Linked DNA regions of Homo sapiens. The protein of the gene in region 2 interacts with the protein of the main gene of each other region in a pairwise test. Each region holds a gene or a part of one and is shown on either strand. Other genes may lie near its edges.

Region 1 (3,650 bases), on a different chromosome or scaffold from region 2:
AAGCTTGAGCCTGTGTGCCCCGCACCATGGCGTGGTTCTCTCCTCTGTTTGGCAGTGGTGGTCCTGCACAGCCTCACTGCAGGAGACTTGGTGGCTGCCTCCACTGGATGGGTAGCCATGGGCAGTGTACCCTCACACCAAGCTCCCTGAGGTCCTGCGTTGGACACGCTGTCCTGGGCCCTTCAAGGGGCTCCCCCACAGCCACAAAGAGCACTGGAAGGCTAGGCTCATGTCCGGATAACAACTGGGTGCAAAACCCACCTGTCCCCATCCTGTGCAGGCACCCTCCCACAGGGCCGTCACTGGGCTACACAGGTGGTCCCCAAGGCCCAGACAGCAGAGACAGCCAGACCACCCTGCACAGGGCCCTGCTGCACCAGGGTGGGCTCCCAGCAGTCCTGGGCCCCGCCTGTAAGGCTAAGCCCCTGACCCTCAGTTACCTGTCCTGGCATTCCTCTTTCTGGTGCCTCTCCAGGAGGGAGCGGGGAAACTGGCGCAGGCAGAAGCCACACTCTGAAGGCAGCTCGCTCACGGCTTTCTCCACGGCCAGGTTCCGGCAGCAGAGGCTCTTACTGATCTCACAACGACAATTGGGGCACGTGGCCTGCTCCTCCTTCAGCCGGGCATCTGCTAGTAGGTGGATAAAACAGCCAGCGCACATCAAGTGACCATTAGTACACTGCGAAGAAGGAAAGGGAGACGAAGCTCACAGACCTGCGGGCTCATGCTCGCACACACCCGCCCATGCCCATCAGCTCCAGCCAGGTGTCCTGAGGGACTCCAGCTGGTGCAGAGGGGCGCACGTGCCTGTCCCGAGTCGTGCTGGAGTGTGGTGAACACTGCGAGCTGCTCAGGAGAAACAGGCAGAGCCAGCTTGGGTTCTTGCAGAGATTAGAGGTCCTAAAAGCAAGGCCTCATCAGCTCACAGAGGTGACAGCTCGCCCTGGCAGTGACGGGTTCAGCCACCTGGGGCCGAGGGTCACGCTTTTCCCTTAGGGACCAGCGACTGCCCTGACCCCCCTACAGGTCCAGAGTTTGGGAGCCCTCCAGGAACACTGGGCTCTTGGCCATCACTGTCAGGTGGGGAGCGGATGCAGCTCCCACACTGGGGCAGGCATGCTCTCTGGGCCTTCAGAAAGGCCATTTATCCTGGGTTGAGAGGACTTGGCTCAGGGTGAGCCCAGGTGAGAGGAGGCAGCTGCCCCCTCGTCCAGGGAGGTTGGCTACCTGCAGAGACCTCCTCAGAGCTGGGAGGCAGGAGCCAAGCTGGCCCAGGACAAGGACAAGGGCAGGTAGGCACACAGGGAGTGCCTGGGGAGCAGAAATGGGGGCTCTGAGTGGGTGCCGAGCCTGCTGGGGTAACCGGGGCTGGCAGGAGCAGGGCACCTCCCGCTGGGCTCCCTGCCTGTGTGGGCTCCCAGCACGCCCAGTGGCCTATCCTGGCTCTCACTCCCTCAACATAAGCCTCGAGCGTCCACTTGGTGCCACTGAGAGACACATGGCAAGCTGCGGTCCCAGCCCGTGGGGGCTCACAGCATGGGAGGTGGGAAGCCCAGACCAGAACCAAGAGGTCCAAGAACAAACAAAGCCTTTTGTACCTGAGCAGACACAGTTCCCACAGCCCTGGCTGGAGTGGGGTGTGTGGGCTGAGGCATTCCAGGGCCAGCCAGGAGTGACAGGGATGTGATGTGCCTCCCACCCAAAGACTCTTAGAGCTCGCTGAGGGGAGCAGTCAGCAGAGTTGCTCCTGTCCTGATGCCTCTCCAGCAGCCGGCCCAGGCTTGCCAGCCATGCAAACCTCCAGAAAGCCACTGGGCTACAGGCTTCCTTTGGGACCTGGGACCCTCTTGAGAATGGGATGTGGTGCAGCAGAGCAGCCTGCCCAGGCCCAGCCTCTCTACAAGGTGTGTGTCAGGGAGGGGACACTCACAGGGCCCTGCCTGGTGGCGCTGGGAGGCCGGCCCTGCCTGGTGGTGCTGGGAGGCCAGCCCTGCACACGTGGGGCCCTGGGAAGTCTGAGCTGCCATCCTACTGCTTCAGCTGCCTGTGCACCCCAAGCTAAGGAGCTGTCAGACGCTGGGGCTGTTCACTCAGCACCTGTGGACTAGGCCTAAGGCCTGCTGAGTCAAAGGACCTACATGTGGAGAACCGACAGTGAGGACAAAGCCCTCTTTCATGGAATCCACATCCACATGAACACCACCCGTTACCTGCATTCAATCCTCAAGTTCTCAGTTTGGTTAAAAATTAAAATTACAGGCGGTGGCTCATGCCTGTAATCCCAGCACTTTGGAAGGCCGAGGCAGGCAGGTCACCTGAGGTTAGGAGTTCATGACCAGCCTGGCCAACATGGTGAAACCCCATCTCTACTAAAAATACAAAAATTAGCCATGCATGGTGGCGAGCGCCTGTAATCTCAGCTTCTCAGGAGGCTGAGGCAGGAGAATGGCTCGAACCCGGGAGGCGGAGGTTGCAGTGAGCCGAAATGGTGCCACTACACTCCAGCCTGGGAGACAGAGTGAGACTCTATCTCATGAATACATAAATAAATAAAAATTAAAACATACACAGTTGCCTGAGGCAGGGAGTGAGACTGGCTCTGACTGGGTTGGGGACAAGCTGAGACCTGCCCCCAGGAGAAGGTGTGAAAATCCGCCAGCCAAGTCCAGGGGTCAGTGGTGGGTGGACTACAGGCAGGAGGGGGCACAGATGCTATTGAAGCAGCTGTCCTGTGGGAGGCACAGACCAAGGGCCCACACCACTGTCCTCTCACAGCCCCCCGCCCCCCGGAGGTATGCCACTCCACGTGGCCAGCTCTAAACACCTCCTGGTGAGACTGCCGGGGGCCTTGGACGAGGTTCTGGGTCCAGCTCTGCACGTACAGTGGCCTTAGCACAGGCAAAACAGCACTCTTCTTGGCTGTGGCCCGACCCCCAAGGGAGTTCCAGGCAGGGCTGGAGCATCTAATGCCACCCACCAAGGCCACCTGGCCTCTCTTCCTGGCTCTGCATAGCCCAGGAAGATTCGAGGTGGGGTCCTAGACCCTCCTAAGGGAGCACTGAGGCTGCCAAGCACATCACCACTTACCTCCCAGCACTGCGGGCCTCTCCCCCGAAAGCCACCCCAGCTCCTGGGCCGGCCCCTGGCCACAGGCCTCATTCCTTTGGGGCCTCCAGATCCCAGCATGGGCTCAGTCAATTCCATACCATGAGGAGGCAGCAGTGACCCTGCCCTCCTCTGGCTCTCTCTGGGCCTCCAAGAGGACCTGCAAGCTCCGAGGAGACACAGGGCCATTGCCCCTTCAGCCCCAATAGCTCCATTCAAGTCAGAACACAGGGAGTCCCTAGAGTGCCCTGGACTACACTGGCCCAGTAGCCAAGGGACACAGCCACACTCACCCCCAGACCCTCCCCACTGGTCAAAGGACATCTCTAGGTGCATGGCCCGGTCCCGACCAACACTCAGCCCAGGAGGTCTGTCCACAGCAGGACGGTCCCTGGTCACATGCTCCGGAGCCTCCCCACCATCTGGGTCCCCTCAGCCCCTGCGCAAGACTCTGGCTCTACACCAAGGCCAGGCCACAGGCAGCTGCATCCTTGGCCCTGGCAGCATCTGGCCAGATGCACTTGATTCTGACTTGTGCCCAACAC
Region 2 (3,650 bases):
AAGAGACTTTCTTCAGTATATTCTAGACTCTCTCAAATGTATCTCCTCACTCCTCCATTGTTATGAATGGATGGATGACTATGAATCTGAGGAAAAAATAAAAGTGGTACTATTTTCTTCAAGCCCTTTTTGTTTCGAATCCTTCTCTTTTTTTTTTTTTCCTGAGACAGGGTCGTTCTGTTGCCCAGGCTGGAGTGCAGAGGCACAATCTTGGCTCACTGCAACCTCCACCTTTCAGGTTCCAGCAAATCTTGTGCCTCAGTCTCCTGAGTAACTGGGTTTACAGGTGCCCACCACAATGCCCAGCTAATTTTTGTATTTTTAGTAGAGATGAGGTTTCACCATGTTGGTCAGGCTGGGCTTGAACTTCTGGCCTCAGGTGATCCGCCTGCCTCAGCCTCCCAAAGTGCTGGGATTACAGGCATAAGCCATTGCGCCTGGCCTCTCTTCTGGCTACTTTTTATTTGAGGCGGATTCTCACTCTGTTGCCCAGACTGGAGTGCAATGGTGCGATCTCGGCTGACTGCAACCTTCACCTCCCAGTTCCAGCAATTCTCCTACCTCAGCCTCCTGGGTAGCTGGGACTACAGGTGCGCGCCACCATGCCTGGCTAATTTTTTAATTTTTTTTTAAGTAGAGACAGGGTCTCAGCATGCTGGCTAAGCTGGTCTCAAACTCCTGACCTCAAATAATCTACCCGCCTCAGCCTCCCAAAGTAATGGGATTACAGGCATGAGCCGTTATGCCTCGTGGCTAGTTCTTTTTAATAGAATCCCATAGTGATTCATGCATGAGTTGAACTAAATGCCTGAATCACAGAACATATAACAATAATGAAATTTAAAGAAAAGTAGTGGAAAGAAAAAAAAAACTGACAGGTAAGAGAAGGGTACCTGAAGAAATTTTGTGACAATAACTGTCTATACCCAGAATTAGAAATGCCAGCTTCAAATATAGTTATAATAAATTTGGCTTCAGCACTACATAGGCTTTTCTTTTTCCTTCCTAAGAATTTTTTTTTTCTGATTAAACTCCAGATTAAACCATCTCTATAACCCATCATACAAAGTTCTTTGTTAATGGCCAAAATAATCTCTTAGGAGCAGTGTGAGGGCCCACAGATATTATATAAATAATGCTGGACTCGAGAGTCTCTAAAATCTTATTTCTATCCCTTATGTTACACGCTCTGACAACTTTCAATATATGACCACTTAGCATTAATCATAGCATTATTTGATCAGGGTAATACAACTAAGGAATCCTTATGATAACTATATTATTCATATTATAATAGTTTTTACTTTAAAACATTAACTTCTTGAAGAATAGCTTTTAATATTAAAAATTAACAATCTTTAAATTTAACTTAACCCAAAGAGGAGATGAGGAAGGAATGAGAATTTTTAAGCTGTCAACAATGATTCCATAAACCTAAAAGAAATTTTAGGAAGAAAAGCTCAAGAACTAAACTGTTCCTTTGTCATTGAATTATTAAGGCAAAAGAAGTGAAGAAAATTGAGTTAAGTAACATCCACAATATGGCATTTTCCCGTGAGTACTCTACTTCACAATCTGATTCTTTAAATACTACAAAAACAGCTGCCTCATTACTTAATAATGGTTATAAATTGCTTAACATTCCACATGTAAACTTTTGCTTTAGCATTTAAGTTTAGATTTTTAAAAACTCAAAAAACTGCAACATCCTTGCAATAAACATTTAACCTATCGTCACATTTAAAAGAAAAAGCATTAAAGTTTATGTCCTTGAATGGTGTTTTCCTTAACAAAATGAACTTCTCTCAATAGTTTTATATAAAATAACAGAATTCAAGTTACTCTACCTCAAATATATAAAAAGCATATTAAATCTAATCTTATCAAAATATTCATTTAGCAGCAGCAGCAGCAGAAATAAGCACTTTTTTTTTTTGAGATGCAGTCTCCCTCTGTCGCCCAGGCTGGAGTGCAGTGGTGCGATCTCAGCTCACTGCAACCTCCGTCTCATGGATTCAAGGGATTCTCCTGCCTCAGCCTCCTGAGTAGCTGGGATTATAGGCGCACGCCACCACACCCAGCTAATTTTTGTATTTTTAGTAGAGATGGAGTTTCACCACGTTGGTCAGGCTGGTCTTGAACTCCTGACCTCGTGATCCACCTGCTTCAGCCTCCCAAAGTGCTGGGATTACAGGCATCAGCCACCCCGCCCAGGCAGATATAAGCACTTTTAAATGACCAAACTTTTGGTCCCATTCTCGGTATCGGGAAAAAGAAAAGAAAAAAAATGACCAAACTTGTTTCTAACCAATAAAGAATATATCTTTTTTTTTTTTTTTTTTTTGAGACGGAGTCTTGCTCTGTTGCCCAGGCTGGAGTGCAATGGCACAATCTCGGCTCACTGCAAGCTCCGCCTCCCGGGTTCACACCATTCTCCTGCCTCAGCCTCCCAAGTAGCTGGGACTACAGGCGCCCACCATCACGCCTGGCTAATTTTTTTGTATTTTTAGTAGAGACGGGGTTTCATCGTGTTAGCCAGGACGGTCTCGATCTCCTGACCTCGTGATCTGCCCGCCTCAGCCTCCCAAAGTGCTGGGATTACAGGTGTGAGCCACCGCACTCGGCCATAAGAATATATCTTAATGTATCTTTTTTTTTTTCTTTTTGGGACAGAGTCTCGCTGTCGCCCAGGCTGGAGTGCAGCAGCGCGATCTGGGCTCACTGAAGGCTCCGCCTCCCGGGGTTCACGCCATTCTCCTGCCTCAGCCTCCCGAGTAGCTGGGACCACAGGCGCCCACCACCTCGCCCGGCTAATTAGTGTATCTTAATATATCTTAATGTATATAAGTATACATTATCCAATTAAAAAAATTAATCTACCTATTAAATATTGCTTCTATCTAATTTAGCTCAGGAAGTGCCTTGTTTATAAAAATCAATGAAAAAATTTAAAACTTTGCTGACAGACCTCTAGAATAATGTCACTGCCCTACTATCTTCCAAAAATACTTCAAAACAACCTAAAAAAAAATTCAAGAATAACTATAAGGTCTGACTTCAAGAAGAAGCTAGTATATTATTATATAAAAACATCTGCTATTAGGACAAGCATCTGATTTTTTAAAGATAACTAAAGGTCTCCTCTACATTTAATGATTGCAAAAAGGACTAAATGAAACAGCATCCATGAAAACTGCCAGACCAAGCCAAGCAGATAGGAAGCACTCGATAAACAGCATAAAAAATTAAATATCTAGAAATGGCTCGTATGAACTATAAAACAAAAAATAAAATTTTATCACTTAAGAATTGGTACAAGGTTGGGCACAATGGCTCATGCCTAGAATCCCAAGACTTTGGGACACCAAGGCAAGAGGATTGTTTTAGGCCAGGGGTTTGAGACCAGCCTCGGTAACTTGGCAAGATGCCATCTCTCCAATAAAGAAAGAAAAAAATGGGCTGGGTGCGGTGCGGTGGCTCACGCCTGTAATCTCAGCACTTTGGGAGGCTGAGGTGGGCAGATCACAAGGTCAGGAGTTCAAGACAAGCCTGGCCAATATGGTGAAACCCCGCCTCTACTAAAAATACAAAAATTAGCCGGGCATGGTGGCGGGCGCCTGTAGTACCAGCTACTCGGGAGGCTGAGGCAG
Region 3 (3,650 bases), on a different chromosome or scaffold from region 2:
TTTTGAGATGGAGTCTCGCACTGTTGCCCAGGCTGGAGTGCAGTGGTGCAGTCTTGGCTCACTGCAAGCTCCGCCTCCCGGGTTCACACTATTCTCCTGCCTCAGCCTCCCAAGTAGCTGGGATTACAGGTGCCCGCCACCACGCCTGGCTAATTTTTTGTATTATTTTTTTTCATTTGTGGGGTACAATGCAAAATGAAAATATGCGGCCCCTTGTTCAAAATTTATTAAACATTTCAAGATGATGACAACAGAGCATTAAATCAAATGCAGGTGAGAGAGGGGTAGACACATCCTAAGGTGCCCTGGGGTTCCGAGGAATACAGCATGAGAAACACTGAACGTAGAGCCTGAGACAAGGACCTGGGTCCAGGTGATTTACCTGACCCCAGGAAGCAGGAATGAGGGAGCAGGGAGGTAAGACAGGGAGGAGGAGAAGCCAATGTATGAGTAAGCTGTTGGGGTTGTTTCTGGGCATTATGGGATCATGATCCCACCAAACCTCCTGGGAATGCCCCAGAATCTCTGCCCGAAACACTGAGAGCTGAGGCATTTCTCCATCAACTCCCAACCCCATTGGTTGAAGGATGCCCCTGGGGGTGCTAGCTTTCTTGCATTTCTTTTTTTTTTTTTTTCTTCTGTTGTGTTTTTTTTGTTTTTGTTTTTGTTTTATTATACTTTAAGTTTTAGAGTACATGTGCACATTGTGCAGGTTAGTTACATATGTATACATGTGCCATGCTGGTGCGCTGCACCCACTAACTCGTCATCTAGCATTAGGTATATCTCCCAGTGCTATCCCTCCCCCCTCCCCCCACCCCACCATAGTCCCCAGAGTGTGATATTCCCCTTCCTGTGTCCATGTGATCTCATTGTTCAATTCCCACCTATGAGTGAGAATATGCGGTGTTTGATTTTTTGTTCTTGCGATAGTTTACTGAGAATGATGATTTCCAATTTCATCCATGTCCCTACAAAGGACATGAACTCATCATTTTTTATGGCTGCATAGTATTCCATGGTGTATACGTGCCACATTTTCTTAATCCAGTCTATCATTGTTGGACATTTGGGTTGGTTCCAAGTCTTTGCTATTGTGAATAATGCCACAATAAACATACGTGTGCATGTGTCTTTATAGCAGCATGATTTATAGTCCTTTGGGTATATACCCAGTAATGGGATGGCTGGGTCAAATGGTATACTTCAGCAAAGTCTCAGGATACAAAATCAATGTACAAAAATCACAAGCATTCTTATACACCAACAACAGACAAACAGAGAGCCAAATCATGAGTGAACTCCCATTCACAATTGCTTCAAAGAGAATAAAATACCTAGGAATCCAACTTACAAGGGACGTGAAGGACTTCTTCAAGGAGAACTACAAACCACTACTCAAGGAAATAAAAGAGGATACAAACAAATGGAAGAACATTCCATGCTCATGGGTAGGAAGAATCAATATCGTGAAAATGGCCATACTGCCCAAGGTAATTTACAGATTCAATGCCATCCCCATCAAGCTAACAATGACTTCACAGAATTGGAAAAAACTACTTTAAAGTTCATATGGAACCAAAAAAGAGCCCGCATCACCAAGGCAATCCTAAGCCAAAAGAACAAAGCTGGAGGCATCACACTACCTGACTTCAAACTATACTACAAGGCTACAGTAACCAAAACAGCATGGTACTGGTACCAAAACAGAGATATAGATCAATGGAACAGAACAGAGCCCTCAGAAATAACGACGCATATCTACAACTATCTGATCTTTGACAAACCTGAGAAAAACAAGCAATGGGGAAAGGATTCCCTATTTAATAAATGGTGCTGGGAAAACTGGCTAGCCATATGTAGAAAGCTGAAACTGGATCCCTTCCTTACACCTTATACAAAAATCAATTCAAGATGGATTAAAGACTTAAACGTTAGACCTAAAACCACAAAAACCCTAGAAGAAAACCTAGGCAGTACCATTCAGGACATAGGCATGGACAAGGACTTCATGTCTAAAACACCAAAAGCAATGGCAACAAAAGACAAAATTGACAAATGGGATCTAATTAAACTAAAGAGCTTCTGCACAGCAAAAGAAACTACCATCAAAGTGAACAGGCAACCTACAAAATGGGAGAAAATTTTCACAACCCACTCATCTGACAAAGGGCTAATATCCGGAATCTACAATGAACTCAAACAAATTTACAAGAAAAAAACAAACAACCCCATCAAAAAGTGGGCGAAGGACATGAACAGACACTTCTCAAAAGAAGACATTTATGCAGCCAAAAAGCACATGAAAAAATGCTCATCATCACTGGCCATCAGAGAAATGCAAATCAAAACCACAATGAGATACCATCTCACACCAGTTAGAATGGCAATCATTAAAAAGTCTGGAAACAACAGGTGCTGGAGAGGATGTGGAGAAATAGGAACACTTTTACACTGTTGGTGGGACTGTAAACTAGTTCAACCATTGTGGAAGTCAGTGTGGCGATTCCTCAGGGATCTAGAATTTTTTGTATTTTTAGTAGAGACGGGGTTTCACCGTGTTAGCCAGGATGGTCTCAATCGCCTGACCTCATGACTGGCCCGCCTGGGCCTCCTGACCTCATGACTGGCCCTCCTGGGCCTCCCAAAGTGCTGGGATTACAGGCGTGAGCCACCGCGCCCAGCCTTTACTAGTGAATTCTATTGAGCATATAAAGAAGAAATGATAGCAGTTATTTAATTCTTTTCAGAAAATTAAAAAAAAAGGAAAAAGTCTCAATTAATTCCATGAAGGAAAAAAATAAAAAGCATCTTGTATTTTGACGTGTATTTGTTTGCCAGTGGCTAAGCTGAGCAATGAAAAGCTGCACTGGTAAGTCTCAACACTAGAATACAGAGAATAGGAACCTATCAAACATGACTAGAGCTAATTGATCATCTCCACTACGTCAAATTTTTCTACTGCTCTGGATAAATTAATAAAAATGGGATTATCTCTTGCTACTTCTACATTCAATTATTCTTATAACTTCAGCAATTGATTCAGAAAAGCGGTCCTGCAGAGAACATTGTTAATATTAGAAAAAGCACAGCAACGCAGAGAAGGAAATAGCCTTCACTTTTCTTTAATCTCAGTGCTCAGGCTTCTTTCCACTTTTTACCTGAAGCAGCTCCATCACTGACCCCTGCAGCCGATGCTCCAGATCTGAGATGAGCTCTCTCAGGGACTGGGTCTGCTGCACCATCTCAGTTTCAGAGTTCGTAAGGCTTTTCAGAATGTCTTCCTCCTCCTTCTCCAGGTTTTGCAGCTCATTGCTCTCCTCCCAGTCCAGGATGTCTCTCAGTTGCTCAAAATCTGCCAAGACGTTGGTTTTGTCATACTGTATTTGAGTCTTCAGAGATAAGAGAAGAGAAAGGGGCACTCAGTCTACCAGGCAGAGGCTGTTAGCCAGAAAAGGAGCTGTTTCTTTTGGGGAGTTCTCACAAGGAGGGGACATAGTAGCAGGAGAGTAGGTCTTAGGAAAGCTGCCTTTTCCTATTTCTTTTCCTTCATGACATTTTAAAACAATGACCTTGAATGGGTATATTGAGGTTCATCCTGCATCAAAATGGGTTACCTGGATGTAGCTTACCTTTCACACAGCTATGCA

Evidence for each region.
Region 1: the proteins of UBE2K (region 2) and ZFTRAF1 interact in binary tests that used the Homo sapiens proteins (3 or more experiments, as listed by UniProt).
Region 3: the proteins of UBE2K (region 2) and TRIM5 interact in binary tests that used the Homo sapiens proteins (3 or more experiments, as listed by UniProt).

What each region holds. Positions count from the first base shown.
Region 1 is NC_000008.11:144,452,782-144,456,431, forward strand, and holds part of ZFTRAF1 (zinc finger TRAF-type-containing protein 1), read right to left. Parts: intron 680-3,650; coding exon 441-679; intron 1-440. Other genes in the region: TMEM276-ZFTRAF1 (uncharacterized protein LOC157542 isoform 1 precursor), read right to left, coding at 441-679.
Region 2 is NC_000004.12:39,739,557-39,743,206, reverse strand, and holds part of UBE2K (ubiquitin-conjugating enzyme E2 K), read right to left. Parts: intron 1-3,650. UniProt on the Homo sapiens protein: Accepts ubiquitin from the E1 complex and catalyzes its covalent attachment to other proteins. In vitro, in the presence or in the absence of BRCA1-BARD1 E3 ubiquitin-protein ligase complex, catalyzes the synthesis of 'Lys-48'-linked polyubiquitin chains.
Region 3 is NC_000011.10:5,675,043-5,678,692, forward strand, and holds part of TRIM5 (tripartite motif-containing protein 5), read right to left. Parts: intron 3,393-3,650; coding exon 3,162-3,392; intron 1-3,161.